3 separate regions of the Homo sapiens genome follow, and regions 1 and 2 are each linked to region 3. Evidence: fine-mapped expression QTL. A gene starts in region 3. Each other region holds a variant in brackets. All regions are shown on one strand. Distances are between the middles of the regions. Region 1 overlaps PDE8B (phosphodiesterase 8B). Region 2 has its middle 63 kb from the start of WDR41. Region 3 holds the start of WDR41 (WD repeat domain 41).

Region 1 (8,652 bases), 60 kb after region 3:
TTTAGCCACAGAATGTCCAAGCAACTCCTGCTTTTGCATTTCATTGCTCTTTTCTTTCAGTTGATCTCATAAAGGCATATACTTTTTCTTATATCTGTAGGTGTTTGTCAGATCTGAACATGGAATGGGATAGGCTATAGTATGTGCAGTTAGGGTCTCCCTTTCCGGATATATGATTTGAGGAAACAAGGAATGCATTGCTTTTAAGAATGGTCTTAATCACCATTATTTAGGAGCTGGAGATAGCTGACAGTAAGGGCAGTGTGAATAATGTTGACTATATGACAACAGTAAACAGAGGATGCATGAAGGGTTGTGGTTATATGTGTATACAGTTAAAGCCTTAACAGAATCGAATTCCAGGGGCCTTTATCAAATTCATGAACAGAGTCCTGTTTCTCCTGCCTTTGAAGGATAATAGTTTGTTAGCTTTAATGAAACCTATGCCTTGATTTTCATTGTGCAAATATGAAAGTTTTAGTTGAAAATTATGAAATGCGTAAGCTTTTAACATGTAGAAATCCAGATACATTAATATTTGCTGCAGGCATCATTGCCTGTAGTGAAGGAATAAGATCAGTTGAGGTAACAGATTAGCTGTGAGAACTAATAACAGTGTAATCAGGGCCCTAAGGAATTTCTTAAATTGTTCTTCCCTGTTTCATAGCCAAAGAACAAAAAATTTCTTTTCATTTGAAAGGGCATTCATGCTTAGGAGGAGCAGCGGCAGCATCCTTGTTAGTGAGCATTTCCTGTATTTCAGGCACTGTGCTAAACACTGGCTGCTGGAGTTTACAGAGAGAGATGAAAACAGTCCTTGCCCTCATGGATCTTACCCTTGAGTGGAGAGAAGGGGTATAGACCTAATAGGCTGTTACCCTAGGCTGCATTTGATGGACCCAAGTAAGCAGCAGTGACTCAGAAGAAACATTTCTTGCTGAATCTTGTAAATGGTTAGAGGATATAGGACTTGACACTTGAGCTGAACCTTGAAGTTTAGTAGGATGAGTATATAGCCTTGTCATCATAAGCTCCTTGATGTTGGGGTACAGTGTCATAGTTATCTTTGCTTTCCTCTAACAAGTAGCTCAGTTTTTAACTTTGTGTTTATGGTTGGGAGGTGAGCATGGACTGTGGTAGGCAGAAGGGCAAAGATAGCATTTACGTGGTGGCAAGGAGCACCTTGGCTAGGCCGGAGCGCTGGGTTCCTGTGAACAGACACTAGTAGGGGATAAAGCCTGGGAACGTGGTTTGGGGTCAGATTATGGATGTCCTTGAATGTAAGGCTGAGGAGTTTGGACTTTATTTTTTAAATAGTAGGAACTCATTAAAAAGGTTTTTAGATGGTAGGGAAAACCCCATGTAAAAGACATTCAAAATGTGTTTGAATGTGGCACATTTCTCATTCTATAAAACAGTGTCAGCTTCTTAGGAATTTTCCTGAGTGAAAGTGTTGAGACCTGAACACTTTTAAAAAGCATCTCCAGCTTCGTTGATAAAATCTAGGCTATCTTTGCAGTGTCACCTGAATTTCCTCATTTCTTTTTTTTTCTTTGAGACAGCATCTCACTCTGTTGCCCAGGCTGGAGTGCAGTCTTGGGTCACTGTACTCTCCGCCTCCCAGGTTTAAGCAATTCTCCTGCCTCAGTCTCCCAAGTAGCTGGGATTACAGGTGCCCGCCACCACGCCCAGCTAATTTTTGTACTTTTAGTAGAGATGGGGTGTCACCATGTTGGCCAGGCTGGTCCTCATTTCTATTTTCATCCTTGCTCTACTGGCGCAACCCCTCTACCTGTGTACTGAATTTTGTGTTTTCCAGTTTCCGAAGGAATTCTGCTCCCATGTTTCCTCCCTTCACTCCTGCATCCTCAGCTGAGTCTTATCCTGTGGTCTTCAGAAATGTATATGTCATTTCAGAGAAAACTCTTGTTTTTTTTCCCGAGAGGGAGTTTTGCTCTTGTTGCCCAGGTTGGAGTACAATGGCGCAATCTCCACTCACTGCAACCTCTACCTCCTGGGTTCAAGCGATTCTCTTTCCTCGGCCTCCCGAGTAGCTGGGATTACAGATACCCAGCTAATTTTTAGTATAGACAGGGTTTCACCATGTTTGGCCAGGCTGGCCTTAAACTCCTGACCTCAGGCAGTCCACCCACCTCAGCCTCCCGAAGTGCTGAGATTACAGGTGTGAGCCACCACGCCCGGCCCTGTTTCTCTTTTATTTCACCCTTTCCTTCGAGGACCTCATCCTTTTCATTGATTCACTTTTCTGATACAACTCTTCACCCCATAGTATTCATGCTGCCTTTTGTCAACACTCTGTTTTCCTATTCTTAGCTTCCAGCCTATTCCTTCACTGGGCAAGCCCCTTCCCCTTACTTGGGGCATTTTCTCCCTTTGAAGCTTTTTCTGAATTTCTGTGACATGTCATAGTCTATACTGCATTATTTAGTACCTGATTACATAATCTCTCATTGGTACCTTTATTGTTTCAATTATGATTTGCTTTTCAGAATCTTCTTGAGGGTAGGGACCATAAACGTAGTGCTGACACTTAACACCTATGGATTGAGTATATCTACTTTTATAGAGAGCTGAAGCCAGTGTTTATCTTGGGAAATTTAGAATTCAGACATTTTTTCCATAGCCATTATACAGTATAAGTAATGGTTAAGTAAAACCAATACTTGAAAAATCAGATGATGAAAAAATCTGGAAGAACTATGAGAATTCATGTACTTTACAAAAATAGCTATTCTGTAGTTGAACAATATTAACAAAATTCTGATTAAAATATTAGATATTATTTGTATGTGACTTACCAATACTGAAAAATGAAATGAAGTTCTACACCCAGATCCAAAGGAGTCTTTAAGGCACATATCTCACACGCACATGTGTTAATGTGGTATTAGACACTTCTCTGCTTTTCGGGGTCCCTATAATCAGTTTTAATTTTCTTTACAGATGTTTCTATACTTTGAAGATCATGGACTAGTGACGTGCTCCGCTGATCATCTCATTATTTTGTGGAAAAATGGAGAGCGAGAATCTGGATTGCGCAGTTTAAGATTATTTCAAAAATTAGAGGAGAATGGTGACTTATACCTTGCTGTCTAGTTTAAGGAATTAAAAATACACATGCATGAACCTTGAACATCAAATATCGGGTACTACTCTGAAAACCATTAATATATTGATCACTTAAATTGGTAATTTTTTTTGTCAGTCCATAAAATTCTACATGTTTAAATTTTTTGTGGACCTACCAACCAGGAACATGTTGCTTCTCAGGTCCTAGTATATCCTCCAAAGAATATACCACAAGTTTTTCCATTTGACTTTGAGCTGCTGTTGAAGTGGTGAGTGCTGTGTTTTGAGCTTATTTTGAACCTAGATCCTTGTGAAAGGTACAAATAGAGGTAATAGTTAAGTTATGGCATTTATTAGAAGTTTTATTATTTGGCTTCCTTTAGAATTATTGTGAAGTTTAAAAATAGCCTTTCTCCTGCAAATTTTCCTAGTCTTTAGTAACTGTTAGTGTTCTATATAGCACAAACTTGAATCTCTCAGCCAAAAAAGGGAACATATATACTGTTTAAGTATGGCAAGTTTTCTTTGGTACCAATTTGTTTAGATAATTTTAAAAATGTTTTTTAGTTCTAGCTACTAAAACCTGTATGAACTCAAATGGATAGGCATCTTGTGAGGGTGTGTTTTTCCCAGTGTGAATTGGCTTGAAGAGCCATGGGCTAAATGGGTACTAGAACAACAACTGCCCCTCATGTACGCCAAGGATGAGCTCTAGATCATTTGAGAGGCACAGTGTTTCCGGAGTCAGGGACTGCAGCTGAGCGCAACTGCCCCATCTGACCACTGACTCAAATACGAACTGCTTGAGACAGACTTCTTTTATGTAGTTCTTTGCAGTGTCCATTGAGACACTATAACCAGCCTTGTAACAATATGTTTTCTCCTTTTGGTGCTAAAAAAT[G/A]AAAATATTAGAAAGTAGTCTACACATTAAAGATTGAAATTCTTAAACTACTGATGAAGAAAGGGCAACGTGACAGATGTTAGCAGACTGACCCTTCTTACAGAAAACCTACAGATTTATTTGTTCATTATACAAATATACTACAAATATACCCTAAAGGGAATCTCCATAAGTTCTTTTACTAGTTTTAGCTTTGACAGTTGCTTCCACAACTACCTACAAAGACTGGAAGAGTTAAGGTCATCTGAGTAGACCAGTGGCATAATGTTACAAATGAGGAAACTGAGGCCCAGTGCAGTAAGGCCTTGCAATTAAATCTGTAGTGCCCAGTATCACCAAGCAGCTCTAAAAACAGGAACTGAAGACTGAATGAGAAAAGGCTTATATGACTACTTTAAATCCAAACAACATTGAGTCATGAAAAGTTCTATGGAGAAATATTAAAACTTAAGCTACCTCAATTACAGAAGACTTTCTCCCATTATTCACGTGCTTTTTCCTTTAGAAATTCTGCATTGGCCCATACATTTGTAAAGTTGTTTTCTGAAGTTGTATGACACAAGGGAGCCATAGACTTAACTGTTTTACTTCCTAGCCTGTTCTAGGCTAGTATTTTGTGATAGTAATCTATTCAAATGGAGTGGTAGAAATCACATGAATTTTGGAAGCAAATGGTACCGTAAGTACCACAGCAAATTCCTTCTGGTCATTATACAGGCGTACCTCAGAGATACTACAGGTTAGGTTTCAGACCACATCAAAAAAGCAACTATTGCAAATAGAGTGAGTCACATCTAGTTTTTGGTTTCCCAGTGCCTATAAAACTTGTGTTTATACTACAGTCTTAAATTTCTAAAAAATGTACATACCTTAAGAATACTTTATTGCTAAAAAATGCTAACAATCATCTGAGCCTTCAGCGAGTCATAATCTTTTTGCTGGTGGAGGGTCTTGATACTGCTGGCTGTTGACTAAGGTGGTTACTGAAGGTTGGGGTGGCTGTGGCAGTTCCTTAAAATAAGATAGCGATGAAGTTTTCCAAATCAATTGACTTCCTTTCACAAATGAGATCTCTGTAACATGTAATACTATTTAATAGCATTTTACCCACAGTAGAACTTCTTTCAAAATTTAGAGTCTGTCATCTCAAATCCTGATGCTCCTTTATGAACTAAGTTTATAGAATATTCTAAATCCTTTGTTGTCATTTCAACTATGTTTACAGCATCTTCACTGTGGAAATGACTGTCTCCAGAAACCACTTTCTATACACATTCTTAAGCAACTTCTCATCTATTAAAGTTTGATCATGAGATTACAGCAATTCATTCACATCTTCAGGCTCCACTTCTTCCAGACTCCTTTTAATGCTGGAATTTTGACCGCCTCCCATGAATCAGAATGTTCTTAGTGGCATCTAGAATGCTAAATGCTTCCCAGAAGGTTTTCAATTGACTTTGCCCAGACTCTTCAGAGGAATCACTAGTTAGGGCAGCTACAGCCTTATTAAATGTATTTCTTAAATAAATAAGACTTAAAAGTCAAAGTGACTCCTTGACCCATGGACTGCAGCATAGATGTTGTGGTAGCTGGCACGAAGACAACATGAACCTCCTTGTACATCTCCATCAGAACTCTTAGGTGACCAGGTAACATTGTAATGGGCAGTAATATTTGGAAAGAAATTTGAGCAGGTCTCAACCATAGGCTTAAATATTCAATAAACCATGCTATAAACAGATATGCTGTCATCTAGGCTTTGTTATTCCACTTCTAGAGCATAGGCAGAGTAGATTTAACATAATTCTTAAGGGCCTTAAGATTTTTGGACTGGTAAATAAACTCTGACTTCAACTTAAAGGCACCAACTACACTCGCTGGCATTGAACTTCTTCTCCCCAGCTATGAAGTCCTAGATGACATCTCTTCTAATAGAAGACCATTTCATCTTCACAAACTCAGTTGTTTAGTGTAGTCGCCTTCAGTGATCTTAGCTAGATCATCTGGACAACTTCCTGCTGTTGTTGTCCCTTGCACTCTGACGTTAATGGGGATAGTTTCATGAACCAACCTCTGCTTGCTTCCAGCTTTTCTTCTGTAGCATCCTCACCTCTCAGTCTTCGAAGAAAGAATTGAAGAATTAATTAGGCTTTGGCTTAAGGGAATGTTGTGGCTTGTTTAATCTATATAGACCACTCAGACTTTCTCCATCTCAGCAGTAAGGCTGTTTCACTTTCTTGTTTGCATGTTCACTGGAGTTAACACTTTCAAGAACTCTTCCTTTGCATAACTTGGCTAACTGGTGTAAGAGGCATGGCTTTCACCTGCCTGGGCTTTCAACATGCCTTCTTCACTAAGCTTTATTATCTGTAGCTTTTGATTTAAAGTGAGAGACATGTGACTCTTTTACTTGCACATTTACAGGCTACTGTAGGTTATTAATTGGCTTAATTTCGATATTGTTGTGTCTCAGGGAATAGGGAGGTCTAAGAAGAGGGAGAGACTGGAAACCGCTAGTTGGTGGAACAGTTAGAATATACACAAGATTTATCAATTAAGTTCACTGTCTTATACGGGCATGGTTTGCAGTACCCTAAAACAATTACAGTAGTAACAAAGATCACTGATCACAGACCACCATGACAGATACAAGAATAAAAACATTTGAAATACTCTAAGAGTTACCAAAATGTGACACTTACACAAAGTGAGCCCATGCTGGGAAAATGCCCCGATAGACTTGCTCTATGCAGGGTGGCCACAAGCCCTCAATTTGTAGAAAAGGCAGTATCTTTGAAGCACAATGAAGCAGAATGCAATAAAATGAGGTATACTTGTATTCTAATTTTCTGCCATGAAAAACTGTCTAGAGGGCAGTCTCCAACCCTAGGGACTAGATTGCTTTTGTTTTCATGCATGCCCTAAGGTCACAGAGATGGGGGATAACAGTATGATGGGAGATTCTGGTAGGGACTCAAACCTGATGGTGTTCAGTAGTTGCAGGTAGACTGCTGCTAAAAGTTGGACTTTCAATTTAGAATAAAATAATGGGTCAATGTATATTATGTACATTTTCTCCATTTCCTGAGTTTAGCTTTCAACAGTTAAGATACTTGCAACAGCAGAAGTAACACTACATAGTGTTACAGTGTACAAATCCCTTGTCATTTTTATTTTAAAATATATTTATTACCTCAGTCTCTGGCTATATTCACATAGCGCAAGGGCACAAGATCATCCCTTCTGTTTCTCTCTCTAAAGCTGAGTAGGTTCTGAGTGAACTGACAGGCTTGTTTTTTTTTTGCCCAGAATGCTAACCAGTCCTGACATGGAGGGCAAGTAAATTTAAAAATCTTAAATTAGAAATAAAGAATGATCTTAGGAAATTATAGGGTCATTCTGGTCCAGCAGTGTTTTATAACTGGCTTCCTTCTCTTACTAGTCACGGAAATTATTAGAGAGTGTTGCATTTTCCTAATACGGCCCTCCTCAGCACATGACATTTAAGTAAACAACTCTGTGTAAGAGGCAGTTATAATAGTTTATATAATATAAACTATCTGATACACATATCATCTGAAAGCCTGTATTTCTAACAAGTTGACTATGTGGAAGAATAGACTAGTTCGCAGGCCAGAAGATTATACCGTAGATTACACTGGTAAAGAGCAGAAATTGTTGACGCTTTAGTACCTAGCTGTCTTAAAGCATTTTTAAACATTTGCACATTACTAATAAAAAGTTTGAAGTTAACAAGAAATTTGACATAAAACTGAGTAAGCTGTAAATATTTCATATAGAAGATGTCTGACACCTGATAAATGTTACTTACCAAATAGAACTGAAAGTGAGATGATCAGAAAAAGATTGTCCTTGCCTCAAGCAAGCTTCTGAAGCCTAGGCAAGTTAGCTAGGTCCTTAATATGGGATTCTGGCATCCTGATTTTAATGTGCTCTGAAAACAAAGTGTGTGACTCATGAAATAAAGGACACTAAACCCCAAATTTGAAATTATGAAAACTTTAGGCCAAAGAGGTAAAATAAAAACAGCTGTTGGGAGTGAAAAATGGCTGTAGGAATTTAGTTACAAGTACTTCACAAAAACATTTTCATCACATTTACATAATATAGCATTACAATACAAAGCTGGCTGCTGTCCTGACCAAGCAAGTTCTCTTATCATCTAACAAAAATAATTTAGATACATTTCTTTGCATGGAATTGTCATATTTTTCCATTTTTGGTACAAAACATAGAAAAAAACATTGGCACATTATGTAGTGATAAGTCATTTTTTCCCCATGTACAAGTTCCAAGTATTCTGCATTCCAATTTGTATTGGAAAAAAGTAATTACTGATTCAATTAATTCAGTCTCTGTTTGTTTATACCTTTTAAAAATGCAGCATGAAGTACAGAGAAAGAAAAATGAAGTTTGTTTACGGAGTCTAATATTTATAATACATAGGAAGGATCAGCTGGTAAAAGAGAAAGGAAAATCTCGAGTCTGACTTTATGTAGATCACAGGGAGTTGTGAAAAGAGCAGTATAAAAATATGCACTTGTGCTTTAGAAGCTTTTAGCATACAATTAATAGCTTAAAATAGTATTTACTGCCTCCCCATATGCCTATTTTCTGATATATTTACACCACACAATTTT
Region 2 (8,000 bases), 63 kb before region 3:
TCTCTATATAGCTGGTTGTTAACTATTTACCAGCGTACCACTGTCTTTAATACACACAGAGCAACTCAATACATGTGTCTGTTATTTATTCTTGAGCTCTCCTAAAAGAGTAATAACAGCTTTCATAGACCCTTTTACAAGAAGTGAAATGTATATTTGATTCCCTAAGGAATCTTAGCCCACAATTTCTTGTTAAGCTTTAAAAATTAAGGTTTTTTTCCCTTAGTGTAATAGATAATTTGGAAAATACAGAAAAAAAATATTTTTTCAATGACTTTATTATTTTGAAAGGATGAAAGTAATCACATATTCATAATTTTCTAAACAATTCATGTCTTGCATATTGGTTTATCAGACAACTTATTGCTGAGTTTAAGAGACTGCCAAACAATGCTAAGATTAGAAAGTGCTGGAAAATTAGTTTGTGGAATGAACTCACTGCAATAACATAAATAGTAGAAACATGTCAAGGACCATGTTTGTTAGAAATAAACTTATTTCTCTATGCAGAAGACTTATTAATCATATCTCAGGATGTTTAATAGCGTAAACAAATGGAAAACTTCAGCTTGTGATCCAAGGTCGTTTTCAAATTGGAAATGACCTCAGCCTGCCCCAAGAGGGCTAATGATGTAAAAATAAGTAGGGCCCAGTCCTCTGGGGAATTCGGTGCAGGTCAGCGAGGCTCTTTTGGTGAATGCGGCAATCTGCTCTGCCTCCATAGGCCTTTGTGTAGCCAGACTCCCTGGGAAAGGTGGGCTGTCTGCTGTTGCCTGGCACATATGTAAGAATATTCTTTTTCAATTTCCTTTTCTATTTTTCTTAGATTTTTACTCATGCACAAGGAAAAGCTCATAAGACACTAAAAATGTCACAATGGTAAATTTTCCTTTCCTAAACAGAAAGAGAATTCAAGAGCAATGATTTTTCTTTATACAAATTGTTTTTTAAAGTTAAATATTAATTTAAAATATATTAACATTTGAAGAATCGCATTTTAACGATTACCTACATACCTACTCCTGTTTTGTTTTTTTTTTTTTTTTTTTTTTAAAAAGAACATTTGAAGTTCCCTATGTGTTCATTTCTTCCCTCCCTACTTAAAGGTAATCATTACACTGACGTGGGGTTTTTATTTGCTTGTTCTTACTCACTGCATTGCCACATTTTTTCTTCTAAACAATATGTTGTTTAATTTTGCATGTTTTTGGCCTTTATATAAAGATAATCATACCGTATACATTCTTTTGTAACTTCATTGCTTCTACTATAAGTCATTACTTTTAACTCTCACCTAATAGTCCATTGTATGAATATGCCACAGTTTATTCATTCTACTGTTGGTAAACATTTGGGCTGTTTTCATTGTTCTCTATTATGAATAGTGTCACTATACTCTGAGTATTACTACACATGTATTTTGGTGTATATGTGCAAGAGTTTCTGTAGGTACGTGCCTAGGAGTGGAATTGCATGCCTTCAAATCCACTAAGCAATTAATGCCAGACTGCTTTTTCAAAGCGACTATACTGATTCCTACTGCCATGAGAAGTGTACAAGTGTTCTAGTGGCTCACGCTAACATTTAATATTGTCAGAATTTTTAATTTTTGCAAGCTTTACAGATGTGAAATGTCATCTTACTGTGAGCATCTTTTATCTTTTTATACTTTTGGTTACTTCTGCCACCTCTTTGTGAAATGCTTGCTCAAGTCTTCTGTCCATTCTCTATTGGATTGTGTGTGTTTCTCTGGTGACTTATAGTAGGTCTTTGTATATTCTGGGTACAATTTTGGGGGCTCATTTTTAGGGTGTAACAAATCACTTCTCCCAGAGTGTGGTTTACTTATTTATTCTCTTAATGGTTTTTTGTTTTGTTTTGCTTTTAAACAGAAGTTTTTAACTTTAATATACTAGAGTTAAATTTATCACTTTTTCTTTATGGTTAGTACTTTCTGTGCTATGTCTAGTAAATCTTTCACTACCTTGAGATCATAAAGATATTCTTCAATTTTGTCTTTTAAAAGTTTCATACTTTTGCTTTTAATATAACTCCTAATCCACAAGGAATTTTTTGTTTATGTGTGTAAAAGGGATCTGTAATAAATAATCTAATTCCATTTTTGATGTTTGACTACCAACAGCTTTCAGGCTCCACCCCTCCCCCTTTCCCTCTTGCCCAGCATCTGGCAAAGCTGATTAGAAACCCCAGGTGCCCCCTCCCTTGGTGCCAAGGAGAAGTTCAAATCATCCCTCATACTGGCCCTATCACTGACCACATTAAAAATCAAAGACCCTTTTCTCTCCCTCCCTCAAGCCATTTAGAACTGGCTTGGATGCCTGTCCTGTTCTGACCAGAAAGCCTCATTGTGTGTAATAAACTTTTAAAATACCTTCTTGTTGTAAATGTGGTATCAACAATCTTGATATCTGAACCAGTTTTGGATGGGGGCATTGAGCTCACCTTTCATGGGGCAACCACAAAAATAAGACCCAATTTCACTTTTTTCCCCACATGAATAACCAGCTGTCTTAGTGATATTAAATTTAAAACTCCACAAACAATACAGAAATTAGCTGGGTGTGGTGGCGCGTGCCTGTAATCCCAGCTACTTGGGGGCTACACGTAGGAGAATTGCTTGAACCCAGGAGGCAGAGGTTGCAATGAGCCGACATCATGCCACTGCACTCTGGCCTGCGCAGTAGAGCGAGACTCCACCTCAAAACAAACAAACAGTCAGTCAGTCGGGTGCAACGGCTCACGCCTGTAATCCCAGCGCTTTGGGAGGCCAAGGTGGGTGGATTACTTGAGGTCAGGAGTTCTAGACCAGCCTAGCCAACATGGTGAAACCCCATGTCTACTAAAAATACAAAAATTAGCTGGGCGTGGTGGCATGGGCCTATAATCCCAGCTATTTCGGCAGGCTGAGGCAGGAGAATTGCTTGAACCCGGGAGTCGGAGGTTGCAGCGGGCCGAGATCGCACCACTGCACTTCAGCCTGGCAACAGAGAGAGACTCCATCTCAAAAAAAAAAAAAAAAAAAAAAAAAAAGTCCATCTTTTCCCCACCACCTTTGTCAAAAATCAAACCTGTTTCTGGGTTCTGGGTTCTCTGTTTTCAACTGTTGGTTATTTTTGCTATTTCTGTGCAAATGCCACTGTGTTAATTGCTCCAGCTTTATAAAACACCTGATATCTGGTAAGGCAAGTCTCTTCCTTCTGTTTTTCTTCTTCAGTAGTGTTTAATTCTTGGCTCTTTTCTTTCCATATGAATTTTAGAATCAGCTTGTTAGTTTCCACAAAGAAACCTTGTTAGGATTTTGATTGAAATAGTATTGAATCTTTACATCTTTATGAATTTGTCTTCCAATCCATGAGGATAAGATTTATACTTCATTTATTTAGTCTTTTTATCTCTTTCAATAAAATTTTATAATTTCTTCATAAGGATCTTACCCATTGTTTGTTAGATTCATTTCTAGGCACTTTATATTTTCGGATGCTGTTGTAATTAATGTCTTTTTTAAAGATAATTACAGGCTAGGCGGGGTGGCTCACACCTGTAATCCCAGCACTTTGGGAGGCTGAGGCAGGAGGATCTCTTGAGCTCAGGAGTTCAGGACCAGCCTGGACAACATAGCGAGACCTTGCCTCTGCTAAAAACCAAAACAATTAGCTGGGTGTGGTGGTGTGCACCTGTAGTCCCAGCTTCTTGGGAGACTGAGGTGGGAGGCTCACTTGAGCCAAGGAAGTTGAGGCTGCAGTGAGCCGTGATCATGCCACTGCCCTTCAGCCTGTGTGACAAAGTGATACCCTGTCTTAATAAATAAATGAATTAAATAAAAGATAATTGTAGAGTAATATGCAGTTTAAGATACAACGCAGAAAGATCCTTTGTACACTTTGCCCAGTTTCCTCCAACGGTAACATTTTTGAAAATAATAGCATAGTATTACAACCAGAAAATTAATACAATTCACTGATTTTATTTAGATTTTTCCAATTTGAATTGTACGAGTGTGTGTGTTAAGTTCTATATACTTGTATTTTTTTTTTTTTTTGAAACAGGGTCTTGTTGTCTCACCCAAGCTGGAATGCAGTGGTACAATCAG[G/A]TACAGCCTCCACCTTCTGGGATCAATGAATCCTCCCACCTCAGCTTCTTGAGTAGCTGGGGCTACAGGTGTATGCCACTGTGCCCAGTTAATTTTTGTATATTTTGTAGGTTGGTCTCGAATTCCTGGGCTCAAGTGATCCACCCACCTCAGCCTCCCAAAGTGCTGGGATTGCAGGCATGAGCCACCCCACCCGGCCTCTAGGCACTTTTATCAGCTATGTAGATTCTTGTATCCACTACCACTGTTCAAGATACTAAACAGTTCCAGCACAACAAGGATCCTTCCTGTTGCTCTTTATAACTACACCACTGTCTTAGTCCATTTGTGTTGCTATAACAAAATACTATAAACTCATAAACAACAGAAATTATACTAAATAAGTTATAAATTATACTATATATTATAAATTATAAAAAATTTATATTATATAATAATAACAAATTTATTTCTGATAGTTCTGGAGGCTGGGAAGTCCGAGATCAATACATCAGCAGATTCAGTTTCTGGAGAGGGCCTGTCTCCTAGAAAGGTACTTTGTAGTTGTGTCCTCACATGGTGGGAAGGGTGAGCTAGCTCTCTGGGATCTCTTCTACAAGAGCACTAATCCTATTCACGAGGGCTCTACCATTATGACCTAATCACCTCCCAAAGGTCCCACTTTCTAATACCATCTCACTGGTGATTAGATTTTAACGTAAGAATTTCAGGGGGACAGAAACATTCAGACCAGAACAACTACTTCCCTACCTCCCCTCACCAATCTCTACCATCTGGCAACCACTAATCGATCCTCCATTTCTAAAATTTGGCACTCCCCAAATTTTATATGCATGGAATAATGTAGTGTGTAACTTTTGGGGATTATAAAACACTATATCATTGTACTCAGCAGAATTCCCTAGAGACATCCAAGTCATATGTATCAACCGACTATTTATTTTTATTGCTTAGTAGAATTCCATGTTGTGCATATACCACAATTTCTTTAACCATCTGTTGACTTCCAGTTTTTAGCAATAACAAATAAAGCTGCTATAACCATTAATTATTTGGGTTTTTATGTTAAAATAACTTTCATTCCTCTGGCATAAATGTCCAGAAGTGCAATTATTGGGTTGTATGGTAGTTGCAAGTTTAACATTTTAAACAACTGTTAAACTCTTTTCCAGAGTGGCTTACCATTTTACATTCCCACCAGTAATGTATGAGTGAACCAGTTTCTCTGCATCCTTGCCAGCATTTGGTGGTGTTATTTTTTAAAATCTTAGTCATGTTGATATGTGTGTAGTGGTATCTCATTGTAGTTTTAATTTAAAGTTTCCTAACAGCTTATGATATTGAATATCTTTTCATGTGCTTATTTTTATCATCTTTGGTAAATGTCTGTTTATGTCTTTTGTTCATTTAATAGATTTTTTTAATGTTGAGTTTTGAGAGTTCTTTACATATTCTAGAATTTAAAATGTGTAAGTTCTTTGCTAGATATTTGGTGCTATGATTTGAAAGATGGCATTCCCTCCAAAATTCATGTGTTGAAACTTAATCCCCATTATGATGGTATTGAGAGGTGGGGTCTTTTGGGGAAGTGATTAAATCAGGGGGATTCTGCTCTCATGAATGAATTGGTGCCTAGCTGGAGGGAACTAGCTTAGGCCCTTTTTGCCCTTTACATCCCTTCAGCTATTTGAGAACACAGCATTTGTCCCCTCAAGAGGATGCAGCAACAGGGCTCCATCTTGGTTGAAAGTGGAGATGGGGGCCTCACCAGATACCAAATGCTGGTGATTAAATCTTGGACTTCCCATCCTCCAGAGCTGTGAAAAATAAATGTCTGTTCTTTATAAATTACCCAGTTTGAGGTATTTTGTTATAGCAGCAAAAAAGGACTAAGGCATATGACTTGCAAATATTTTCTCCTGAGTGTGTAGTTTTCCTTTTCATCCTCTTTATATGGCTTTCACAGAACAAACATTTCTAATTTCAGGGAGGTCCAATTCATCAGTTTTTCTTTTTATGGATCATGCAGTTGGTGTCAAGTCTGGCAACTACTGGCTTAGCGCCAGATCCTGACAACTTTCTTCCATGTGTTTTGCTGAAAGTCTTATAGGTTTGTTTTACATTTAAGCCTGTGATCCAATTTAAGCTCATTTTTTATATAAAGCATGAAATTTAGATCTAGGGTTTTTTTCCCCATATGGATATGCAATTGTTCCAGCATCATTTGTTGAAAAGGTTATTCCTCCTCCTTTAAATTGGTTTTGCACCTTTGTCAAGTCAGTGTGGCAGACTGTGTGAATCTATTTCTGGGTATCCTGTGCTGCTCCGTTGATTCATGTGTCTACCCCTCTGCCCACACCACACTCTCTTGATTACAGTAATTATATAGCCAGGCTTAATATGGGTAGAGTAGTTTCTCCCATTTCTTTGTCTTTCTTCTCTATCAAGATTGCTCTAGCTATTCAGGGCCTGTGCCTTTTCATATATATTTTAGCATAAGCTTGCCTCGGTCTATGAAAAAAATATTGCTGGGATTTTGATAGGAGTTACACTAAACTATAGACCAATTTGGGGAGAATTGACAGCATTACTAAACTGAGTCTTCCAGTTCATAAACATGATATATCTCTTCATTTATTTAAGTCTTCTTTGACTTTCACAAAATCAGCATTTTGTAATTTGTAGCATATAGATCTTGCACATGTTAAGTAAATGCATAAGTATTTCATTTTCCTTGGAGTTATTGTAAATTGCCCTGTGTTTTTAATGTCAGCTTCCGCATGTTCACTGTTACTATAATTGATTTTTATGTGTCTTTATATTTATTTAAATTACTAATATATTTAGATTTATTTTGACAATTTTATTTAGTGGTTTGTATTTGCCCTACCTTTTCTATGGTCTTTCTTGTCCTCCCCTGCATCAATTGCATTTTTTTTCTCATTCAATTTTTCCCCTACTAGTTAGGAGATTTTATTTTATTTTATTTTATTTTATTTTATTTTATTTTATTTTATTTTATTTTATTTTATTTTATTTTATTTTATTTTATTTTTTGAGACAGAGTCTTGCTCTGTTGCCCAGGCTGGAGTGCAGTGGCACGATCTCGGCTCGCTGCAACCTCCGCCTCCCTAGTTCAAGCGATTCTCATGCCTCTAGCCTCCCAAGTAGCTGGGATTACAGGCTCGTGCCACCACACCCAGTTAGTTTTTGTATTTTTAGTAGAGAAGGGGTTTCACCATGTTGGCCAGGCTGGTCTCAAACTCCTGACCTCAGGTGATCCACCCACCTCGGCCTCCCAAAGTGCTGGTACTACAGTCAACAGCCACCTCGCCCAGGCTTTATTTTTTTATTTTTTGAGTCAGAGTCTCACTCTGTCACCCAGGCTGGAGTGCAGTGGTGCAATCTCAGCTCACTTCAGCCTCTACCTCCTGGGTTCAAGCAATTCTCATTCCTCAGCCTCCCAAGTAGCTGGGATTACAGGTGAGCACCACCACACCAGGCTAATTCTTGTGTTTTTAGTAGCGACAGGGTTTCGCTATGTTGGCCGGGCTGGCCTCAAACTCCTGACCTCAGGTGATCTTCCTGCCTCAGCCTCCCAAAGTGCTGGGATTACAGGCATGAGCCACCACACCCAGCTAGTAAGGAAATTTTATGCTATATTATTTTTACTTTGTTAGTCATTCTAAAATTAGCTTTTGAATATCATTTATCAAAATCTAACATGAATTAATATTTTTGCCCCCTTCTTAAACATACAAAATCCTTAGGACATTTTATTTTATTTTATTCTTTCTTTCTGAAATTTTATTTTATAATTTCAGATTTTATTTTCAATTCACAGGGTACTGTGCAGGATTGTTACGTGAGTACATAGCATGATGCTGAG
Region 3 (8,000 bases):
TAGCTCTGGCAAGAACTTCCAATACAGTGTTGAAGAGCAGTGGTCAAAGAGGACATCTTTCTTTTGTTTCTCATCTTAGGGGAGAAGCTTTCAGTCTTTCACCATCGAATGTGATGTTAACCATGGGTTTTTCATAATTACTTTTTATCCTATTGAGGAATTTCCCCTCTATTTCTGGTTTTCTGAGAGTTTTGTGATAAAAGGGTGTTGGATTTTGTAAAATGCCTTTCTGCATCAGTTGAGATTATCTTGTGGTTATCTTCCTTTGTTTTATTAATGTGATGTATTACATTGGTTGATTTTCTTATACTGAACCACTCTTCCATTCCCGGAATAAATCTTACTTGGTCATAGTAAATAATACTTGTTAATATGCTGTTGGATTTAATGTGATAATATTATGTCAAAGATTTTTTTCATCTGTAGTCATAAGGGATATTGGCCTATAATTTTCTCTTTTTGTGATTTTTTTTCTGGTTTTGGTATCAGGGTAATGCTGGCCTTGTATAAGGAGTTAAAAAGTGTTTCCTCCTCTTCACTTTTTGGAAGAATTTGAGAAAGATTTGTGTTAATTCTTCTTTAAATGTTTGGTAGATTCATCAGTAAAGCCATCTGGTCCAGGACTTCACTTTTTTGGGAGGTTTTTGAATACTGTTTCAATCTCTTTACTTGCTATAGGTCTGTTAATATTTTCCATTTCTTTCTGAGTCAATTTAAATAATTTGTGTATTTCAAGGAATTTATTCATATCTTTTAGGTTATCTAATTTGTGTTCGATTGTTCATAGTGGTCGCATAGTCCCTTTTCTCTCTGCAAAGTCAGTAGTAATGTCTCCACTTTCATTTTCAATTTTAGTTATTTGCATTTTCTCTTTTTTTCTTTGTCAGTCCAGCTAAAGGTTTTTAAATTTTTTTCATCTTTGCAAAAGACCAACTTTTGGTTTCATTGATTTGCTCTATTTTTTCTATTCTCTATTTTGTTTATCTCTGCTCTAATTCTTATTATTTCCTTCCTCCTACTAGTTTTGGGTTTCATTTGCTCTTCTACTTCAAGTTCCTATGGTATAAAGTCAGGTTATTGATTTTAGATCTTCTTTTTTAATGTAGACATTTATACCTATAAATTTCCCTTTAAGTACTGCTTTTACCGCATCCCGTAAGTTTTGTCGTGTTGTGTTTTTGTCTCTAGGTATTTTATAATTTCTTTTGTGCTGCTTTTTCTTGTGACTCATTGGTTGTTTGAGTGTTTTGCTTAATTTCAACACATTTGTGAATTTTCCAGTTTTACTTCTGTCACTGATTCCTGTTGTGGTCAGAGAAGATACTTTGTGTGATATCTATCTTTTAAAATTGATTGAGACTTATTTTGTGGCCTAACATATGGTCTATCTAAGAGAATGTCTTACATGTGCTTGAGATGAATGTTTATGCTGATGTTGTTGGGTAGTGTGTTCTTTATATGTTAGATGTAATTAGTTTATTGTGTTGTTTATGTCCTCTATTTCTTTACCTTGTCTGGTTGTTCTATCTATTATTGAAAGTGGACAGATGAAGTCTGCTACCATTGTTGTAGAACTATATCTTTCTTCAATTCTGTTAAGTTTTGCTTCATAAATTTTGAGGGTCTATTATTAGGTGTGTAAATATTTGTAATTGTTTTATCTTCTTGCTATATTGACTATTTTATTAATATATAACATAATGTTTCTGTCTTTGAAAACTTTTTTGATTTAAAGTCTATTTTGTCAGCTGTTAGTACAGCCACTCCAGTTCTCTTTTGGTTACTATTTGCATGGAATATCTTTTTCTATTCTTTCCCTTTTGATCTATTTGTGTCTTTGATCTAAAGTCAGTCTTTCATAGACAGCATATAGTTGGATTCTAGAGTTTGGTTTTTTTTTGTCAATCTGCCTTTTCTTTGGACAGTTTAATCTATTTATATTTAAAGTAATTACTGATAAAGAGGAATTTCTATTTTTCTATTTGTTTTCTATATGCCTTATAGTTTTTTTGTACCTCATTTTCTCTATTACTGCCATCTTTTGTATTTAGCTTATTTTTTGTAGTAAATGTTTTGATTCCCTGATCATTTCCATTTATGTATATTTTACAGGTATTTTTGTGTTTACCATGAGAATTACATTTAACATCCTAACGTTATAACAATCTCATTTTAATTTATACCAACGTAACTTCAATAGCATACAAAGACTCTGCTCCTATATTGCTCCACCCCCACCCTTTCTATTGATGCCACAAATTACATCTTTATACATTGTGTGCCCAATAATATACTAATCTTGTAAAAAATTCTTTCTTAGCTGTCCTAAGAGGAACCAAGGGAGGAAGTGTTCAACCCTGGACCAGTGCTTTAAAGCATCAGCAGAATGTCCCTTACATCAGAGTAATGTGGCATTGGGCAAACCCTAAAGAGCATGGGGCAAACCCTAAAGAATGTGGATAATCAGAAGAATAAAATGTAGGCTATTTGGGCAACCACATTGTCTCACGTGAAGATATTCCTTCCAGAACTGAACTCCTGATGTCTCTGAGTTTTGTTTTACTTAAAGATAAGTCCCTCTTTCCCAGGGGATAGTCTCTGTTTTGGTCTGTCTTCAACTGTATGCAGACTGCAATTTGGGGCTAGCACACAGAAGGCAACATGCTCCTGATCCTTGGGAGTGTGTTCTTGCCGAGTGCACTCAAAAGGAATACAAAGATGAATTATAGGAGATCCGAGTTCCAGAGGGACTGTAAGTTTGTGTAGCTGCTCACAACCAACTTAGCTTAAAGTGGGATGTATGGCTCTCTCTTATTGGTGACTGGGACATTATGCCTTGTCCCTCCAGAGCAGCATTTTATGTGATTCCTTTCTGCTTCTCTAGTGCATCTGTGTCCAATACATGTTTGCTGAATTAATGCATTAGTTGGGACATTTGTAGATTCCCTACAACAATTTACTGCTAGGAGGATTATTTGAACCTAATACATATGCAAATATATATATTTATACTTTTGCAAACATGATATGTATAAGTAGTTCCTAGACCAGTGATTTTCAGACCTTGCTACTCATCAGAATCACCTGAGGAGCCTTCCCAAAACCCCGATTCCTACGTCCCAACCACAAAGATTATTTTAATGAGTCTGAGGTGGAAGCCAGGAATCTACATTTTCAAAAGCTACCCAGGTAATTCTGATATGCAGTCAGCATAGATAACCACAGCCCTTTGACTACCTAAGAAAATGTAGTAGTCAAAAAAAGGTATATGAACTGCCTTCTATTCTTTAGGGAGATTCTATGTTAATATAGCATACGGTCAAGAACACTACCAATGTAGCCACTTCCTAGCTGTTATCTTTAGACAAATTACCTAATCATTCAGAGCTTTAGTTTCTTGATGTGTAAAATAGAGGATATAGGTTTACCATGAGGATTTATGTAAAGCCTTAGCACAGTAGCTGTACTATAGCACACAGTAAATGTTGGCCGGATTTATTCGGCTGTACACATGAGCCACTGGATTTGTCTGGATGCAGAAGTCTACTGCGGTACACCTTCTTCAGCAAGCTCTTGGGAAAGCAGGGGAGATTTCCTGGTACCCTAGGAAGTGGAGGATACTAAAGCCATGTCACAGGGAGGGGCATTATTCTTCGTGCGCGCTTGCTCGCCGGGGTCGGGTTGCTGCTCCGCGCGCGTCCACCAGGGGCCGCTCGAGCTACCTAAGCTCCGTGCGCTACCCGGCGGCGCTCCCGCGCGTGCTCACTCGGAGCAGCGCGCGCCCCGCAATCGCCGCAGCCGCCCCCGCCGTCGGCCGCCGCACCCCAAGCGACTGCCCAAACTAAGCCTCCGTGGCTGGGTACGGGAGCGCTTTGGGGACAAAAATTCTCCCTCAACTGTGGTCTGCATTCCTTCGGCCCGTGGGCTGATCTGGGGCGGGAAGTATTAGCGTCTCAGTTGCGCTGCAGCCGGGGAGGAAGGAGGAGGCCGAGCCTGGGGCGGAGTTTGGGCTGACTGGGGCTGGACCGGGCAAGACGCCGCCGCTGCCCGGATGTTGCGATGGCTGATCGGGGGAGGCCGAGAACCGCAGGGACTGGCCGAGGTAAACCCCGGGTGGGTCTGCTCTGCGTCCGTCGAGCTTGCTGGAGGGGCGGCTTCGTTCCGGTTCGGCCTTCCTGGGTTCCGACCGCGGGGACCCGGGCGGAGGCGGGGCTGGCTGCTGAGCTCGTGCCACGCGCTGTTCTCACGACGGTGGGGGCGGAGGGCGCGGGAGCCGGAGCTCCTCAGACCCGGCGGGACCCCAGGCGCACCCTGGAGCTGCAGACCCCCGGCCCCGTCCCACGGCTAGCTGAATCGTGAGATCCTGGCTCAGGGACGCTCAGCTGGTCAGCAGTCCTATTGGGACCTGTGACAACTTAGGGCTTCTGGCTACCGAAACTATCTTCATTTCCACTTAAAAAGTATACGATTTAGCTAGAAACGAACGAGTTGTGACCGCAGCTTTCCACTTTTGGTTTATTTGAATTGGTGTCTCTTCCTGGCGTCTACTGATACTTGGTCAGGGAATATAAAATTAATTTACTTATCCAACAACCGAAAAAGGATATAATTATTTTTAAAAAGTAATCTGCTTCAAGGTCAAGAACATGATTTTCTAATTAACTGCTGTTTTTGGTTTCATAGTCACACTTTCTTCATGGGCCCGAATAATTGAATAGACCGTGTGTAATGAAATTTACATTTGAAATGTGAATAAAATAATTTTTGCAGTCTTGGAAATTTTGAGGTCCCAAATTTATTTCGTATGCCACACAAGAACTTTCATGCGCGTCCGTGTGAAGAGACCACCAAACAGGCTTTGTGTGAGCAATAAAAGCTTTTAATCACCTGGGTGCAGGCGGGCTGAGTCCGAAAAGAGAGTCAGCGAAGGGAGATAGGGGTGGGGCCGTTTTATAGGATTTGGGTAGGTAAAGGAAAATTACAGTCAAAGGGGAGTTGTTCTCTGGCGGGCAGGAGTGGGGCAAGGTGCTCAGGGGAGCTTTTTGAGCCAGGATGAGCCAGGAAAAGGACTTTTACAAGGTAATGTCATCACTTAAGGCGAGGACCGGCCATTTTCACTTTTGTGGTGGAATGTCATCAGTTAAGGCGGGGCAGGGCATTTTCACTTCTTTTGTGATTCTTCAGTTATTTCAGGCCATCTGGGCGTATATGTGCAAGTCACCGGGGATGCGATGGCTTAGCTTGGGCTCAGAGGCCTGACAAGAACAGAATTTGTGAATTGCATTTTATTTCTCATAAGAAGTATTTGTTTAGATTGTTAAAAGTAAGAAATTGGATTGTTGAGAGTAGGCAGTCTTCTCAATTTTAACTTCCGCATGTCTTTGCAGTTGACGGTATTGTCTGTTTTTAAAAATTTCTTATTTCAGATTAATCCTAAATCCTTGAGATTGTGGATTATTGAATAGCCATATATGGTATATACGACATTTTGGATAATTCTGTTTTAACCTGGTTCTTTGGTTAATCATGTTATTTGCTTAACCAGGTCTCCCATTCCTGGCAAGTTTTCATTGGAGGAGAAGCAGTTTATATAGTTTTCAAATTTCTCACCACAATCTCTTCTAGAAGGAAGACAGAATAAATACAAAATCAATGCTTTGTGGTGGTGGTTTTTTTTTTGGAAAACATTTATGCATGTTTTAAATTTATATATTTCTTCATATAAATCTAATTGAGTTGTATAACTGCTGTGAATTTGTACATTATCGGAACCTATGATTGTCCCTAATTTATGCAATAACTTTGTATCCAGGCTTCTCGTTTAAGCAGTGGTTCTCAACTGGGGTGATTTTTGCCCCGCAGGAGACATTTGGCAATGTCTGGAGACATTTTTGATTGTCATGCCTTGCAGAGGGGCAGTTCTATTGGCATCTAATGTGTATAGACCAGGGATGCTGCTCAATGTCCTGTAATGCACAGGACAGTTCTCAACAACAAAGAATTATCTGGGCTGGGCGCGGTGGCTTACTCCTGTAATCCCAGCACTTTGGGAGGCCGAGGCGGGCGAATCACTTGAGGTCAGGAATTCAAGACCAGTCTCGCCAACGTGGTGAAAACCTGTCTCTACTAAAAATACAAAAATTAGTTGGGCGTGTGGTGCGAAAAAAAAAAATTCTCTAGCCCAAAATGTCAGCATCAAGTTTGAGAAATCCAGAGTTGATTTCATGCCTTCATTTATTCATTTAGCAAGCATGTATTGAGTGCTTGTAATGGATGAGGCACTGTTTCACTATTTTATGTCTTTGATTTGCAGTTTTGTTTCTGCCACATTTTAACTGAGAAACATGCATTCTAAAATGTTGAGTTGGATTGGCCCATTACTTTTTTTAAAGTGAGGTTTAATAGGATACAATTTACATAAAATAAAATTCACCCTTTTTGTAAATTTATTGTGATTTGAAAATACTAAAATTCATGATTCGAATTTGTGGTAGGAGAAGTGTTTTATGTGGAACTGGCAGTTATTTAGTTGATAAAAGAAGAAATAATATTTAGTAGTAGAACATGATACCTTAAGGCTTTTAAAATCTTGTGTTCTCAGATGTATACCATGGAGTTATATTCCAATATGGTCTTACAAATCATTTTATCTCTTTTTTTGTCTTTTGTTTTTTGCTTTTTTTTTTTTTTCAATACAAGAAATCTCCTTTACAGACAATAGGTGAAGAACAAACCCAGAATCCCTACACTGAACTGCTAGTACTGAAGGCTCATCATGATATTGTACGATTTCTGGTACAGTTAGATGACTACAGGTAAGAAGCTATAGTGGTCTAATTGACTATTGTTTGGGAAGAGGTTTTAGGGAATTTTATGTTAAACACCTTTAAAATTAATACATCTTTTCTAAAAATTTAAAAACTGTGATCATTAGTAACATTTAGTAGAAATTGAAATTGGCCTCTGCATCTCGATGAAATATGTATCTAGAGTCTTTTTTGCCCAAAGTCAGGGTGTCGTGTCTGGTGATTTGAGGGTTATGTTTGTTTGTTTGCATTCTCAGAAATATTCTTAATAGTTTAAAAGAAGTGTATGACTTTAAAATTTGGGTAGGAGTTATAACAGTATATTAAGGAGAACTTGTATTTGAGAAACAAATATGCTAAGTGTTTAAGTATCAGGTACCTACCAGGAATGTTTTATTTTTAGTGGAAGGTAAGTTTAATCCAAAGTTTTTGTTATTGATGAAACCACTTGAAAATGTACATTATTCTGTACTTCCTTGCTAACATGTATAATAATTATGTTTAATATATTTGCAAATAGAGGTGAAGGTGTATAGGCTTTAGGACTGTAGACTATTACTGATATGTATATATGTATATTAAGCCCATATTCAACTGTATATCTTTTATAGCATGTTTCACCATAATAATTACATAATTAGTGGTGTAATTCAATATTTTCGTCCTCTCTAAAATGTAAGCTTCATGAGAATGAGGCTATGTTTTTCTTATTCACCATGTTTTCTTAGTACCTAGTACAGTGCCTTACATGTAGCAGATAATTCATAGATGGTGGCTGAGTGAATGAATGACTCTCCAGACTACTAAGCATCCACATTGAATGCCGTCCTAATCCCCCAACCTCATTTCTGTTGTCTCTACTAGTTTTTCCACTTTCATCTCTAATTTTGTCTTTTGCCTTTGCTGTTTTTTTTCACTCCATGGATGAGTGTTACTGTAATTATTCCTAACTCTGACCACCACTTCTGCTGTCTATTAACCTTGTCTTTTCTCTGCTTTTTTTTTTTTAATTTAATTTAATTTTTAAAATAGAGACAGGGTCTCACTATGTTGCCCAGGCTGGTGGGCAACTCCTGGGCTCAAGCTGTCTTCCCACCTTGGCCTCCCAAAGTGTTGGGATTACAGGCATCAGCCACCGTGCTCAGCCTTCTCTCTGCTCTTTAAATGTTACTGATATTTAGTTGCTTTACCATG

The links. PIP is the estimated chance that this variant, and not a neighbour inherited with it, causes the effect.
Region 1: its variant is fine-mapped to the expression of WDR41 in whole blood (TOPMed, PIP 0.95). The same link has a PIP of 0.9 or more in sun-exposed skin.
Region 2: its variant is fine-mapped to the expression of WDR41 in whole blood (INTERVAL, PIP 0.93).

What each region holds. Positions count from the first base shown.
Region 1 is chr5:77,427,600-77,436,251 of GRCh38, reverse strand. PDE8B (phosphodiesterase 8B) reads right to left here. Exons shown (of 22, transcript NM_003719.5): 22 at 7,996-8,652. WDR41 (WD repeat domain 41) reads left to right here. Exons shown (of 13, transcript NM_018268.4): 13 at 2,965-5,319. The coding sequence ends at 3,117. Among named protein-coding and RNA genes, the nearest start is that of WDR41, 60 kb to the left of the region's middle. The variant G/A (reference allele first, on the strand shown) is at 3,992.
Region 2 is chr5:77,551,147-77,559,146 of GRCh38, reverse strand. It overlaps a transcript of WDR41 not described here. Among named protein-coding and RNA genes, the nearest start is that of WDR41, 63 kb to the right of the region's middle. The variant G/A (reference allele first, on the strand shown) is at 4,112.
Region 3 is chr5:77,488,272-77,496,271 of GRCh38, reverse strand. It overlaps WDR41 (WD repeat domain 41), which reads left to right and starts at 3,956. Exons shown (of 13, transcript NM_018268.4): 1 at 3,956-4,102; 2 at 6,700-6,815. The coding sequence starts at 4,052. RefSeq lists silencers at 3,651-3,790, 4,231-4,450 and an enhancer at 3,571-4,494.